2 linked regions of the Homo sapiens genome follow. The protein of the gene in region 1 interacts with the protein of each later gene in a biochemical or structural test. Each region holds a gene or a part of one and is shown in the gene's direction. Other genes may lie near its edges. The genes, in order: ST7 and DCAF4.

Region 1 (8,302 bases):
TTAGTATTCTTTGTGTCTGTGTTTGTAAAATGTAAGATTTGGAATTTCTTTTCATGTAATTGATTTTTCATTCCTTTATACAACACTCAATATTCATGAACATGTACCATGTGCCAAATGCAGCACAATTTGTACTAGATTAAAATTCAGAGGACTAAAATTAACCACAACAATAACAAATTACTTAACCTTAAAGGCCTCCATTTAATAACAGAGAGGAAAGATATGGACAAGGTGTTCTGCTCAGCATTTTTGGTATGCATATCACTCAATCTTCACAACAACCATATGTAAAAGGCATAAGTGTAACCCATTGTACAGATGAAGTAACTTAATAACTTGCCAAAGAGCACCCAGTTAGGGAAAGGCAGGATCAGAAATACAGCCCAGCACTGTTTACTCTAAACCTGGTTGTTAATGACCTTCCTGGTGCTGCATCTCACAGGGAAGAGACCGTGAGCTCAGGGGGTGGAGGGAGCTGGTGTTACCAAGGAGGTGGTATTTCAAGTGGTTCTCTAAATAACCCGTTATCAGGCAGTTGACGCAGGAAAGAATGTTGGTCAGGGAAGTGGAGCACAGAGAAGTGTATTACAGGCAGGTTGTGTGGAGCAGGTCCAAAAGTGTGAAAGAGAATAGCATGTTTGCCAAAATGCTGGTGCTATTAAGGTAGGCAGAAGTGCCCTTGCAGAAGGCCTGAATACCATCTAGATTCCATCCTTTAGTTAGACACTGGGATAAAAGTAGGAGTGCAGTAGGGGTGGGGCCTTAAATAATTTTATGCAAGGAACGAGTTATCGGATTTGTGCTTTAAAAGGTAACTGGTAGAGAAGTGTGGAAAGTGGATGGAAGGAGGCAGTGGTGGTGCTTGCCGTGGTGCAAATAGAGGCAGGGAGCCCACTGCCTTGTTCTCTATGAATGATGATCAGGCTATCACCAAAGGCTGAGAGAAGTGGCGGCCTGAGTCTTGATGTACAGTGGAATATAGAGAGGAAAGGAGGTACATGATGCTCAGATTTCTGAATTAGGGAACTGGAAGGATGGTGCCCATTCCTTGATGGAACTCTAAAAGGAACAGATGAGGGTGAAGAGGTAATGCATTCCATTCTGCATGTGATGAGCTTGGTGATTGTGTGCCATTCCACTGGGTGATTATCAAGAGGTAGTTAGGCATATCTGGGGTGTCATTATTTCATTAACGGTCCCACTCAAGAGCCCCCCCCTTATCCGTGCTCTGCCTGTTTTTTTTTGTGTGTGTGTGTGAGGCAGAATCTCACTGCTACACCCAGGCTGGAGTGCAATGGTGCAATATCGGCTCACTGCAACCTCCACCTCCTAGGTTCAAGCAGTTCTCCTACCCCAGCCTCCCGAGTAGCTGGGACTACAGGTGCGTGCCACCATGCCCGGCTGATTTTTGTATTTTTAGTAGAGACAGGGTTTCACCATATTGGCCAGGCTGGTCTCAAACTCCTGACCTCAAGTGATCTGCCTGCCTCAGCCTCCCAAGGAGTGCTGGGATTACAGGCGTGAGTCACTGCGCCAGGCCTGCCCTGCCTGTCTTATCAGTCACCAAGGCCTGTCACTTCTGCCTCCCCTCCCTTCCTTCCTCCCTTCCTTCTCTCCTTCCTTCACTCCTTCCTTCCCTTTATTTTTCTCTCTCTGCCTCTTTCTTCCCTTCTTCCCCTTCTCCCCGCCTCCCTCCCTCCTTCCCTTCCCCCTCTCCCTCTTTCTTTCTTTCTTCCTTCCTTTTCTCTTTCTTCTTTCTTTCTCTCCCTTTCTTTCTTTCTTTCCCCTTCCTTTCTCTCCCCTTCCCCTTTTTCTCTTCCTCCTTCTTTCCTTTCTTTTTCTTCTTTCTCTCTCTCCTTCCTTCTTTCTTCTTTCTTCCTTTCTTTTCTTTCTCTATCTTTCCTTTCTCTCGCTCCCCTTCCCTTCCCCTTTTCCTTCCTTCCTTCCTTCCTTCCTTCCTTCCTTCCTTCCTTCCTCCCTCCTCCCTCCTCCCTCCCTCCCTTCCTTCCTCTCTCTTTCTCTCTTTCTTTCGACAAGGTCTCACCCTGGAGTGACTGGCACAATAACAGCTCACTAAAGCCTCAAACTCTCAGGCTCCAGTGATCCTCCAACCTCAGCCTCCTGAGTAGCTGGTAGTACAGGCACACACCACCACACCCAGCTAATTTTTAAAATCTTTTTGTACAGACAAGGTCTCCTTGTGTTGCCTGTGCTGTTCTCAAACTCCTAGACTCAAGTGATTCTCCCACCTCGGCCTCCCAAAGTTTTGGGATTACAGGCGTGAGCCATCTACTTCCTTAATATTTCTTAAATCTCCACTTAAATAAATCTCTGAGTTGGTCATTTGGATTGGTGTGTGCAATGCCCCATAACTATGAACACCTTAGCGTTTCTAGTAGGCCCTTCAAAATGACTCAGGCCTGTATCTTTAGCTTTGTCTGTATCCACACCACTCTGCAGAGGCTGCACTCCAGCTATACTGAAGCAGCCACAGTTTGCAAGAGATTATGCTTACTCACTTCTGTTTTGAAGTGTTTTGAAGCACAAAGGCATGTGTACAGTCCCCACCACATGCCAGGATGCACACCAGGAGAGGCAATGATATAGGGCTGACTTCCCAGGAGCGCCTAGTAGAAAATTAGAAGATTGTGACTTAGCGGAGTCATATTCATGTCCATTCATTGAAGTTCATTGACAGCAAAAAGCCAGGCCTCCGGATGTTCATTTAAATTAAGTAGTCAATATCCTAATTCAGTGACTCGCAGAGAATCTGGTGGGTTATTTAATCATCACATAAAATAGGTGGTTCATGTACTCATGTTGAGGCAGGAGACTAGGTTCTGGAGGCAGGGAAACTAAGGACTTCCTTGAACTACATTGAAAGGAAAACCCTAACTTTCCACGCCTAAGTAACAAAAGGACCAGAGGCTACCTTTGACCTTTTCTGCCTAGTAGATGGGAAATTGGCTGTCTGTAACCAATCAGACTGACTGCGGGTCCAATCTTCATTTGCAACTTTGTAACTTCACTCCAGCCTCTGAATGGTTGTTGTCCACAACTAATCAGACTGTGGGCGAGTCTTCGTTTGCATAGAAGCATAACTTCATTAAGTACATCCCAGCCTCTGATTGGTTGTTTTTTGCAACCAATCAGATGTTTGCACAGGAGTGTTACCTTTGTATCTTCATTTCAGCCTCTGGTTGGCTGCTTTCTGCAACCAGTCAGACTGATTGCGGGCTACCACTTCATTTACGTGAGATGAGCATGAGTTGCCAAAGGGAAACTTCTTGGGGGTATTTGGACCCAAGAAGATTCTGTATTCGGCCTTTGAGCCGCTGCTCCGCCCGCTCCCACAATGTAGAGTGTACTTTCGTTTTCAATAAATCCCTGCTTTCGTTCTTTTGTCGCTTCTCTGGGTGTTTTGTCCAATTCTTTGTTCAAAACGCCAAGAACCTGGACAACCTGCAGTCACGATCCTTTACTGGTGACAATATTGTTTTATTTTACTGAGATTCCATGTATCAGTGTTAGACACAAAAATCATTTGGTCATGTGCTGCCATAAATAACTATAAAGAAAGTCTATGTGTGCCAATTTCACTTATTCTGGCCTGGATCTCACTGTAGTAGATCAAATGTGAGGAAGAAACAGTAGCCGAGAGAGGCTGGAATTAGTAAAAATTTAAGAGTAGTTCCATCCATTATGTATGCCGTAATAGGCCCTATATGTGAAAAGTTAAAGGAGCTTATTTAATTATGAAGGAAACTATTATACAAGTAAGCAAAACAATTTATAATAAAATATTCTTTATGCTCAGAATTTTAAAAATAGATGTAGACTGGAAAACCTGCAATTTCCTCATTACCATCTAATACATAGAAAGTCAAATCACTTACGGACAGAAACAGACTTGAAAATTTCAGCTGAGAAAACATTTTAGAATAAAAGAAACATTTTATTCAGCACAGTCAAAACAAAACAAAAACAACAAAACAATGTTTAAAATGGACTTTCTGTTAGAGGTGGCCGTTTCACAGTCAAAATTATCCCAGAGAATTGTTTATATTAAAAACAGGCTGAGAATAGTTTGACCTCTGATCACCAAAAAACCTGGAGGATAAACATTCATCTGTCAAGATTTCTCTGGAAAATCCCTGCGCTGCTTCAAAGAGACAGAACAAAGGTAAATAGCATCTGCCACCCAAATCTTGCTGAATAGAGTGATTTATCTTCAGGCCTACTAGCCGGCGACAGGAGCGCACCTCCTCCCTTCTCCTAGCTGTCCCGGGTTTATTCATTCCCTGAGCCTGAATCCTGATAAGGGAGCAGAGTAGGGTTTAAGACCTCGGACCCCAGAATACACCACTGCAATTGAATTTTGGTTCCACCTTAAGGTAAACTACGCAGCTGCTGTGAGCCTCAGTTTCCCTACCTATAGAAAGAGGATCGTAGTGGGGAATTGTTGCAGGGGTTAAATGAGATTGTACGGATCGTGGAGCAGCGCCTGGCGTGTGGTAAACGCTCAACTTATGCGGGTTGTAACTGCCTGAGGCGTTTCCTTCGGCGCGCCACTTGGCCTTCTCTTTCTAAATATTAGCATAATAAATATAAATGGACCCAGAACGCGAGGGGGCAGGGGCCACGTGATCGCTCCACGAAAGCCACTTGTAGGGACCTTTAGAGAGTTAGCAATAAGGCTGGAGAAGGAAAAGCCGGCGCGCCCGCGGCCCGCGCGATTTCCCGCCGAGCCCGCGTCCCCGGCGGCGGGCGGGCTCCGGGGGCGCCCGGGCCGCGGCGGCGGCGGCGGCGCGAGCTGCGCCTCCGGGCCGGTGAATCATCCCGGCAGACACCAAGAGCCGCGGCAGCAGAGAGGAGCGCTGAAACATGGCTGAAGCGGCCACGGGCTTTCTGGAGCAGCTCAAGTCCTGCATAGTTTGGTCTTGGACGTATCTGTGGACCGTGTGGTTCTTCATCGTGCTATTCCTGGTCTACATCCTGCGGGTGCCTTTGAAAATCAACGACAACTTGAGCACAGGTAAGGCCTGGGAGCCGGGCCCGCGGCGCCCACCCCTCCCCCGCCCCGGAAAGTTAGTGCAACTCGCGCGGGGCCGCGGCCAGGCGCGCGCTCGGGGACGCGCCGGGGCCCGCGCACCGGAGGCCCGCGGCTACCCGCCAGCAACGCGGCGGCTTAGGCGGCGGGGCCGGGCAGCTGGGCGCGCGGGGGCGGCCGGTGGCCTTCACGGCCCCGCGGAGGAAGAGCTGCGCCGCGCACAGCCCGCAAGGCGGGCCGGGCCGGGCCGGCAGCCGCCCTGCTGCGTCGCTGGTGGTCGGGAGACGGAGAAGAACGGGTGTCGCGGGCGAAGGAGTTCCCAGGACACCCCCTCGGGTGTCTGCGCCGGAACTCCGAGGGTTCCCCGGAGTTAGACCGAGTCCTTCCTCACGCCCTCCCGGCTGTGGGTGCCAAGCGGCCGAAGTGTGGTCGGGGAGGCGCCCTCCCGCCCGGCCGCGGAGGCCCGAGGGCGGCTGCCGGAGGGTGCTCGGCGGCGAAGCCCCCTGACCCGGCCGGGCTGTCCGGGCGGCGCCCTCCGTGGCCCGGAGTTGCGTCTTGCCGGGCGTGGGGCTGTCTCTCTGGTTGGGTAGTGGGGAGAGGGGTTCCCGAAGGCACTCTTGGGAGTGTATGGATGACGTGTCAGGTCACCAAATGGATTGTCGAAGGGACCGGAGGGAAGAGGGGAGAGCTGGAATTTCTGAGGGTTTCGGTTGCAGTTTTCAGTGATCTTTGCTCGTCTCCCTTCCCTGTAAAGCTACATATGCTCAGCAAGTGCCGCGTGCCTCCCATCCTTGGTCGGTGGTAAATGCAGGAGGTAATTAACAGGATCTTCACAAACTTGGAGCCAGCCCACTGAGTCGTTAAAAAAACACCCGCAAAGAAAACACACGAGCCTTAACACTCCAGAGAGTTCCGAAACACAAAGTAAATTTCGAGCTAAGGGTTACAGTCCTTTAAATCTGGAAATTTCAAGGTAGAGTGTTTTTGTTTTTGTTTTAAATTTTAATTTCACAGTACTGGGAAATTCTTACAGTCCTGAAGATATATACATATGTACACATATATATCTTCCCTTGTTAATCTCCATACTCTGGGAGTGCAAGTCTGGAAATGCATTTTCCTCAGGTGTTTAGCTGCATTAAAACGCTTTTTAAAACGCTTGAGATAATGTACTCATTTTGTTAGGAAACTTGTACCTTTCAGATACTAACTTAAGTATTTTGATTACTAACTTGAACTCATGTTCATATTTACATTTGTTTTGTAGTATCCCTCGGGATCGTGTCCCTGGGAGGCGGATAGGATTCAGCACTCTAGAATTGTCTCACCATTTGAATAGGTGCTGCTCAGCCCTTTTGAGTCTGTCATCGGAAAGACCATGGCTTTCTCGCTTTTCATCTTTTTGGATGGCTGCTTGTCGCAATATTGTCTTCTTCGCTTTAGACAAGTATGTCTCCAGGATACCTTCTGGTCTCAAAGTTCTATACCTTTAAGAAGTTGTTTGAATATATGTTTTAATGGAATTACGTATTTGTTGGTAACAGTGTTAGTCTGTTTTGTGCTGCTGTAACAGAATACCACAGATTGGGTAATTTTTAAAGAACACATTTTATTTCTTGTAGTTCAGGAGTCAGGGAAGTCTTGAGATCAAGGGACTGGCATGTGGGGAGGTCCTTCTTGCTGTCATCCCTTGGTGGAAGGTGGAAGGGTAAGAGAACATGAGAAAACAAGAGGGGGCCCACTTTCACTTTTATAACAAACCTACTCCCTCAATAACAAAATTAATTCATTCTTGAAGGCAGAGCCTTCATGACCTAATTACCACTCACAGGTCCCACCTTTCAACACTTTTGCACTTGGGATTTTCAAACACACTAGTTTTTAAAATATTAATGTTTCTCCTTATTACACACTTAAAATTTTATTTCATGATATACATTTGTATATCACATTTTCATCAGGTTAAATAATTACCCATGTATATATGTGTAAGTGTCACATCCAGTGCTCTGTGCAGATCAGGCAAGAAGCAAAATATCTACTGGGAAAATGTGTACTTCTTAAGGAAGGGCATTGTTAGGTCTTCTAGCAATTTAAATCTAGCATTTCTCAGAGATGCCTTTGTTAATTTGTGTAGGGGCAGTTCTAAGAGATAGCGAAAATATGAAGATGAACGTGCCATCCGGGCTGTACCTTGCTAGACACATGATAGAAGACCTGATGATGCTGGACTTTTCAGTTTGGTTTCATGCTCATTTCAGTCATAAAGAAAGATAAAAGGGGAAGCACACAGAGAGCACTCACCTCTCTGCTGTTTTTATGAGAGGGTAGCAGGATCTGGGGTGGGAGGAGGACTTTGGCATTAATTTTGAGACATGAAATTATAGCCACAAACCACCCTAGAACAGTTTAGGTTTTTCAAAAAACAGTTGCAGACATTAGAGGCCTATTTTCTTCCCTTTTAAGTAACAGTGAGAAGTTATAGTAGGAAAACTGCCAAAAGGTTGTTGTCAACTTAATTCCCTCCTTTCCTTGCCAATTCCCCTCCCCTTTGGGAAAAAGTTTCTGTACTGAAGTTATTGGCAAGGAAGGCCCAGGGAGAAAGAAGTCATTAGCCAGCACCCCTGAGAGGGGAGGCAGGAGCTAGCCTGGTCTAACTTGTCCTTGCAGGGAGGTCTAAAAGAGTTCTAACGGGACTAACTTTGCTGTTCTTCAGCCCTGTGGTGCTTACTCTTCCTGTGATGAAGGCAAGTGTGTTCCTGGAGAGGTTACTGAATCTGGAGCTGCTTTTAGGGAGTTGCAGATGGCGCAGGCCTCCCTTCCTCCTCAAGGAAGCCAAAGACACCATCACAATCAGGCAGCCAGGAGCCAGGGCTTCCATAGGCCCAGCTCTGTACCTGTAGGGGGATGGAATCTGCTAAAAGTGTTCTGGAGTCATTCTTGGATATCTGCTTGGTATCTTCTCAATATCTTGACCATCTGTGACAATTTTAATCCTCATTTGATCATATTTTATGGTAAATGAGCTTAACTCGATTTTTTTTTAATTTAGATGCCTCCTAATGTACTATAACAGGTGCTATGATAAGAAAGATGAATGAGTTTGTAAAACCCAGGGTAAATAAGGAGTTTACTACAAGAATACAACTTCCCATATGCAAGATGGGGCTGGGCAAGGCTGTGAGAGCTTCTCTTGAATTGAGCCTAAGAGGATGAGGAGAATTCCATGATTGAGGACTCAGAGGTGGA
Region 2 (7,620 bases), on another chromosome or scaffold:
GACGAGGCAGGTAGATCACTTGAAGCCAGGAGTTCTTGAGCAGCCTGGCCAACATGGTGAAACCCCATCTCTACTAAAAATACAAAAATTAGCTGGGTGTGGTGGCAGGTGCCTGTAGTCCCAGCTACTCGGGAGGCTGAGGCAGGAGAATCGCTTGAACCCGAGAGGCAGAGGTTGCAGTGAGCTGAGATGGCGCCACTGCACTCCAGCCTGGGCAACAGAGCGAGACTCCATCTCAAAAAAAAAAAAAAAATACACACACATTTGGGCTGCAGGGGCAGGGATATTGCTTTCAGAGAAGAGAGGTATAGACAGGCAAAAGAGCAGATCGGGGGTTAGAGAGAAATCATGAACTCACTTTTGAACCTGTTGGGTCTGTGGAGATAGACACGAAGCAGCATAGGAACTTGGTGCTCAGTAGCGATATTAGGGTTGGAGCTGCATCTGCATTGGTAGATGAGGTGGTGTTAAGTCTGAAAAGAAAAGGATCTAGGACAGAACAATGGAAAGCACATACAGGGTGTGTGACCCAGGAGAAATGAGCAAAGGATTTATTTAGCAAGAAGAAAACCAAGAGAAAGATATTACAGAAGCCAAAGGAAGAATGTAGCCTCCTGGTGCCACATGTTGCAGGAATAAGGGCTAAAAAGAGACCACTCACTTTGGCAAGTAGGTAATCAATAGCAAGAGCATTTTAGTAGAAAGGCGAGGAGAGAGGAAGCTCAACTGCAGTGGGTTGAGGAATATCGGGAGATGAAGACATTGAATTCGTAGATGTAGACCATTCTTTCAGAATATGCCCATTTTTTTGGATTAGAAATGGAACACTTACAAATGAAAAACCTGGGCATGTTTTTAAAAGCTGAGATAAGGAGAAGGAGACATTAACATATGGGGGAACAGATAGATGTCTGCAGTTCCTGGGAAGGAATGAAATCAACAGCCAGGTGGGATGGGTCTCCCTTGAAAAGGAGCAGTGATACCTGTTGTCCAAGACAAGGAAGAAGACAATTAGTAAAGGCAGGTATTTGTGGAGCAGAAGGGAGTGAAGTTAGGGGTTTCATGCCTGGCAATTTTTCTTTTCTTTTTTTTTTTTTTTTTTTTGAGATGGTGTCTTGCTCTGTCGCCCAGGCTAGAGTGCAGTTTACAGTGAGCACAATCTCAGCTCACTGTAAACTCCACCTCCCGGGTTCAAGCGATTCTCCTGACTCAGCCTCCTGAGTAGCTGGGATTACAGGTGCACGTTACAACTCCCGGCTAATTTTTGTATTTTTAGTAGAGATGGGGTTTCACCATGTTGGTCAGGCTGGTCTCGAACTCCTGACCTCGTGATCCGCCTGCCTCGGCCTCCCAAAGTGCTGGGATTACAGGCATGAGCCACCGCGCCTGGCCGACCTGGCAACGTTTCTGTGGGGTAGGAAACTATGTGGTCGACTAAGGGTAACAGGAAGGAAGTGGGAAGGATGTTGGGGGAGTGCTGGAGGCAGCCCTTCCCAGGTAAGGCTTGCTGTGGCAAATCTGATGATAACCCAGGGTGGGCCAGCCTTTTGCTGGTGCTGAGCATGAAGCAGCTGCCAAGAAGCAAACAGAAAAGCCCATGCCCACACACAGAGATGTATGGATTTTTTTGTTTTTCTCTTTTAGGAACAGAAATGAATAAAAGTCGCTGGCAGAGTAGAAGACGACATGGGAGAAGAAGCCACCAGCAGAACCCTTGGTTCAGACTCCGTGATTCTGAAGACAGGCAAGTGTGCCGCTCTGGGGAGCCACTTTTGCCCAGTGTGCTTCTGGCATTGTACACATGGCATGTCACACGATCACAGGTGTGGAGATCACCTGGGGGCTCGTCCCAATGCAGGTTCTGATTCTGTAGGTCTGAGGGGTCTTGAGGAGAGCCTGCCTTCCTAACGTGCTCCCAGGGCATGTCGCTTTGGTGGGTCAGCCCACCTCACTGAGTAGTGAGGAGAGAGGACCACTCTCTGTTCTTTCCTAAGTGACCACGACCTCTGGCCAGAGCATTCGCCATAAAGCTAGAGGTAGACGTTATCTGAAACAACTGGAAAACCGTTTCTCCATTTTGTAGACTTTTTATGCAAATACCTTTGTGGAAACCAAATTTTATTAATTCAGCCTAAGTCTCGGACAAGGATATACACTCATGCTTCGCTTAACAAGGAGGAATGCATTCTGAGGAATATGTTGTTAGGCAGTCGTGTCATGCAAACATCATAGCACATACGTAACACAAACCTACATGGTACAGCCAGCCACACACACCTAAGCTATATGGTGTAGCCAATTGCTCCGAGGCTGCAAACCTGTACAGCATGTGACTACTGAATGCTAGAGGCAGTCAGTACACAGTGGTATTTGTGTATCTCAACATAGAAAAGATACAGTAAAAATAGGGTATATAAGATTTTTTTTTAAATGGTATACCTATGTATGACACTCCTGTGAACAGAGCTTGCGGGACTGGAAGTCAGTGAGTGAGTGATGAGTGAACACAAAGGCTTAGGACATTACTGTATGCTAGTGTAGACTTTAAAACCCTGTACACCAGGCTACATTACATTTATTTATTTATTTAAGAGATGAGGTCTCACTCTGTTGCTCAGGCTGGTCTCAAACTCCTGAGCTCAAGTGATCCTTCTGCCTCAGCCTCCCAAAGTGCTGGGATTACAGACTTGAACCACCACCCAGGCCAAGGCTACATTAAATGTATTTTTAAAATAAAGTTGGCTGGGCCGGGTGTGGTGGCTGACGCCTGTAATCCCAGCACTTTGGGAGACCAAGGCAGCCGGATCACTTGAGGTCAGGAGTTTGAGACCAGTCTGGCCAACACGGCGAAACTCCGTCTCTACTAAAAATATAAAAATTATCTGGGTGTGGTGGCACACACCTTTACTACATCCTTCAGCCTATAATTCCCTCAGAAGCTACTTGTGGATTTACAAATCAAGTGTTTTAGCCGCAGCTCTATCCCAGTGTTACTGAACTAATCACCTCTGTCCCCCAAACCCCAGTTTCTCTGTCTGTAAGATTGTGTAGTCAAGTAAAATTTAAACTCTTTGTGCTACTGAATCCAATAAAGAATGAAATTCACCTAGCCTTGTAACTGCTGTTGTGCTGACAAATGAGCCCAGCTGGTAAAATTCTTATTGGCAGAGATTTCTATTTTTCCTTTTAATCTGGAAAATTCCACAAGACCTCACAAAATGCGCGAGTGAGAAGATAAGAAGAGGGAATCACTGTGACATCTGTCCTCTTTTAAAGAAAGAAAAAAGAATGAAAAACCAAAACCTTGCCCTATTTTGTTGTATTTGCAAGAGGGGATCAGTGCTTCTCAAGTAATCAGAAAGGTCAGAGATCAGAGGTGAAGGCTGCAGAACTGCCCGAATGGACTCCCTGCCCCCGTCAGAATGGCTGGAACTCAAGTCCTGGGCTGCAAGTTAACACAGCTGTGTGTCAACAGGTCTGACTCCCGGGCAGCACAGCCCGCTCACGATTCCGGCCACGGTGATGACGAGTCTCCGTCAACCTCGTCTGGCACAGCTGGGACCTCCTCTGTGCCAGGTAAGGCCACTTGCGGGGTGGGAATCCTGGCCCTTGCACACAGGGAAGGCTGAGACCCGTTCCTGGCTTGGAAGGAATTCCAGGAGCAAATTGAAACACTCAGGGAAGGAGCTGGGTGCGTCAGGAATGGTGGTCATGAGGCAAACCGCCTCCCCCAGGACTGAGCACAGTCCAGGATGTTGCCTGACAAGGCAGCTCATCCCCGCCCTCAGAAAAGACAGGCAGCCACGAGGTGGGGGGACAGGCCACTGGGCGCCCAACTCAGGTGGTCAGTTCACAGTGGTTGAAATTGGTGCATTTAATTTTTTTGTCTAAAGAGCTACCTGGGTTTTACTTTGACCCTGAAAAGAAACGCTACTTCCGCTTGCTCCCTGGACATAACAACTGCAACCCCCTGACGAAAGAGAGCATCCGGCAGAAGGAGATGGAGAGCAAGAGACTGCGGCTGCTCCAGGAAGAAGACAGACGGAAAAAGGTGGGCTCCTCACCCCTTCGCCCCCTGTCCTCTCCGCTCCTGCCAGCACCTGTCCATCCACTGTTGAAAAGGGTGCCAATTAGATGCCCCTGCGACACTTAGCAGAGGCACTTCAGGGGGTGTGGCCCTAGCTTTTCCCTGACAGGAAGAAGACAAGAATAAGAACAGCCAAGAGCCCCCTTCTTCCATCCCCGTTTTCTTGTTCGATAAGTTGTTTTTTTTTTTTTTTTTGAGGCGGAATCTCACTCTGTTGCCCAGGCTGGAGTACAGTGGCATGATCTCAGCTCAGTGCAACCTCCACCTCCCAGATTCAAGCAATTCTCCTGCCTCAGCCTCCTGAGTAGCTGGGACTACAGGCACGTGCCACCATGCCCAGCTAATTTTTTTATTTTTAGTAGAGACAGGGTTTCACCATGTTGGCCAGGTTGGTCTTGAACTCCTGACTTCAAGTGATCTGCCTGCCTCAGCCTCCCAAAGTGCTGGGATTACAGGCGTGAGCCACCACACCCAGCCTTCTTCAGCAGTTCTAACATTTTGTCATTCCTGAAGGAATCTTGGGAGGCAGTGTGATATAATTTTAGTAACTGTTTTTTGGGGTTTTTTTGAGACAGGGTCCCACTCTGTTGCCCAGGCTGGAGTGCAGTGGCGCCATCTCGGCTCACTGCAACCTCTGCCTCCCAGGTTCAAGTGATCCTCCTGCCTCAGCCTCCCAAGTAGCTGGGATTACAGGAACCTGCCACCATGCCCAGCTAATTTTTGTATTTTTTTTATAGAGATGGAGTTTCACCATGTTGGCCAGGCTGGTCTCGAACTCCTGGCCTCAAGTAATCCGCCCACCTTGGCCTCCCAAAGTGTGGGATTAGAGGTGTGAGCCACCATGCCCATCCCAGCTGTCTATTTTAAATAGAAGACCAGGATGCATGGTTTGGAATACAGGCCATCTTGTCTGTTTGCAATACAGACCAACAGGTCTAGACGCTAACATATTTTGTTGTCAAGGTAGGCAATGGAATGTAAAGTTCCAGCCCTGGGTCACCACGGGTGGAATGGAGAGTGGTGCAGACCTGTTTGCAGTCCCATTGCTGCACTCACGCACCTGGTGGCTTCGTCCCCCCGGGTGTATGTGGATGGGGAGCGTGGGCAGAGTTGACGAGCAGACTTTCCCACTCACACTTTCTTCTGCTGGGCCTTTCCTCTTGCCGAGGAAGGGAGACTTGGAAAGGACACCGTCAGATTTTTATGCATATAATTTCTGCCAATTTAGTGCCTGTTTCCTTCATTACATCCTATGGAACTAAAAACATTCTCCATCATCCCCTAACAAATAAATCTTCATTGAATTGTTCTCTTTTTTGTAATAAATATAGATTGCCAGGATGGGATTTAATGCATCTTCCATGCTACGAAAAAGCCAGCTGGGTTTTCTCAACGTCACCAATTACTGCCAGTAAGACAATGCCTCTTTGTTATGTTTTCTTCATGAATGTTCTTTTCCTGTTTCTTATTTTCATGGTATAAGAATCCAGTCTGGATAGACCATGTGGCTACCCCGTGAAGCACCTGCACAGTTGAGGGGCTCCAGTTCACACCCTGCCTTCTGCTGCTTAAACCCACCCTGAGAAAGCTGTTCTCTCTAGAGCGAAGGCGGGGGACTCTTGCAGGAGGATAGGGAGAGAGGATGGGGACGTAGGCAGAGATGTCTATTCTCTGTTACTCGTAAGTCATTCTAGTAGAAGCTCCTACAACTTCATTCCCATGACATTTCTGCATCCTTCTTTCCCTTCTAATGAGTTGTCACCAACAATGGGGCATTAAGTGGATGTGTGTGTACTAAACCTTATCAAAGTACTTATGATGGCTGATACAATTCTAACTAAAACCCTGTGAAATAGGCCGATACTTTCCCCCATTTCCTGAAGAAGAGACTGAGGCTCAGAGTGGAGTGATTTGCTCAAGGTAAAGCTAGAAGTGGGGAACTGTCTGACTCCAACACCTGAGCGCCCAGCGCTGCGTCTCCTGCCCCCACTGTACATGCTCAAGTGAAGAACCTGCATTTGAGGCAGCTTCCTGGGGCACAGCCCTCGGACCTTGGAGCAGGGCCCCTTCAGGGAAGGCCAGAAACACCGTAGGTATCAGGCAGGGCAGGCCCCTCCTGTTTTCCTCCTTCTGAGACAGAAAGTTAAAAATCTAGTTAGATCTGTTCCTCACCCTGCGAAACAAGAGGCGGCCGTATCCTGGGGCTCTTCCCGGCAGCCGTATCCTGGGGCTCTTCCCAGCAGCGGAGTGCCCTCCAGACCATTGTTTCATCTCCCGCACTTTCGTCATCTCAGGGGAAGGAGCTGTACTGAATGATGCAGACACAACTCCCTCTAACTCCCACTCTTTGACTCTGCAAATGGGCCACCCACTTCTTCATTTTCATCTTCCTGAGCGTTCTGTGGGGAAACTCAAATTCGGATAATCTGGGATCTTGCTCAGCTCCATTGCTGAGAAGTACTGTGGAGCAGGCTGACGAGGAGAGATGGGCGTCAGCGGGGCAGGGAAGGCCAGAGACCCCCGAATCTTCTTCATGGATGTCAGCTTCAGCATCCATGCCCCCACCCTCTGTTTCTGCAGTTTAGCCCACGAGCTGCGTCTCAGCTGCATGGAGAGGAAAAAGGTCCAGATTCGAAGCATGGATCCCTCCGCCTTGGCAAGCGACCGATTTAACCTCATACTGGTGAGTGGGAGGGGGACACCTGCCTAGGGTGTGGCTGCCACCCTCTGGACACTTTGTGGCTTAGCGTTGCCAGTCATCAAACCTGGCTCTGGAGAAGCCAACTGCAATGAAAGTAGGTGGCATCTTCTTGGTTGTACGATTTTAACCTGCCTGCTGGCTACCCGCTGGGAGACGCTGAGCTGGCAGGCAGGCTGTGGGGCGACCATCATCACCCCCCACTTCAGCTCCGTCGTTTAACGTCAGAGTCTGGACCCAGCCACACCTTGACTACTGAACTTTACACAATAACTTCTCCTTGGCTGTGTTGTATATGCAATTAAAAAGGCTCACAGTGGACCTGGGGACATCTGCTTCTTCCTGAACTGGGGCAGGACTTGGTGGCTAAACCTGCAGCCCAGTGTGCCTTTGGTCACTAGAGGGTAGGACTCCTTGCTTGCCGCCCCTGGCTTCAGTGGCACCTCCCATCAACACACCTCCATTACATCATTTGCAGGGGGTGAAAGGCCTTCTCTGGTTTGGGTTGGACCCAAGCTGGAAGCCAAGGTCAGCCGCTTAAACCCAGGGGCCAGGGAAAGGTTGGCAGAGAGCTAGAAGGACCACTGCAAACAAAGGTCCCTGACCTTTCGATGGACCACGTAAGAGCAGGGCCTGCCCGGCAAGCCCTATCCTTCCTGGAGGCTGAGGGAAAGCCAGGGAGAGTGAGAGGAGGATACAGAGGCAGGAGCATCTGGACTCGGTCATCTGCTGGTGGGACTGGAGGCCGATGCTAGAGATTGACCCTGGAGGTTGATACTGCATCCTCCTGCCCCAGGAGACCGCCACAGCAGGGCCCTTCCATGTAAGGGGTGTT

Evidence for each region.
Region 2: of the proteins of ST7 (region 1) and DCAF4, one has a biochemical effect on the other in vitro, tested with the Homo sapiens proteins (one study listed by BioGRID).

Annotation. Positions count from the first base shown.
Region 1 is NC_000007.14:116,948,654-116,956,955, forward strand, and holds the start of ST7 (suppressor of tumorigenicity 7 protein), read left to right. Parts: upstream 1-4,847; 5' UTR 4,848-4,887; coding exon 4,888-5,038; exon of another isoform or gene 5,039-5,681; intron 5,682-5,807; exon of another isoform or gene 5,808-6,026; intron 6,027-6,320; exon of another isoform or gene 6,321-6,500; intron 6,501-7,769; exon of another isoform or gene 7,770-8,070; intron 8,071-8,302. UniProt on the Homo sapiens protein: May act as a tumor suppressor.
Region 2 is NC_000014.9:72,936,327-72,943,946, forward strand, and holds part of DCAF4 (DDB1- and CUL4-associated factor 4), read left to right. Parts: intron 1-1,623; exon of another isoform or gene 1,624-1,644; coding exon of another isoform or gene 1,645-1,652; coding exon 1,653-1,744; intron 1,745-3,475; coding exon 3,476-3,576; intron 3,577-3,893; coding exon 3,894-4,051; intron 4,052-5,418; coding exon 5,419-5,498; intron 5,499-6,667; coding exon 6,668-6,770; intron 6,771-7,620. UniProt on the Homo sapiens protein: May function as a substrate receptor for CUL4-DDB1 E3 ubiquitin-protein ligase complex.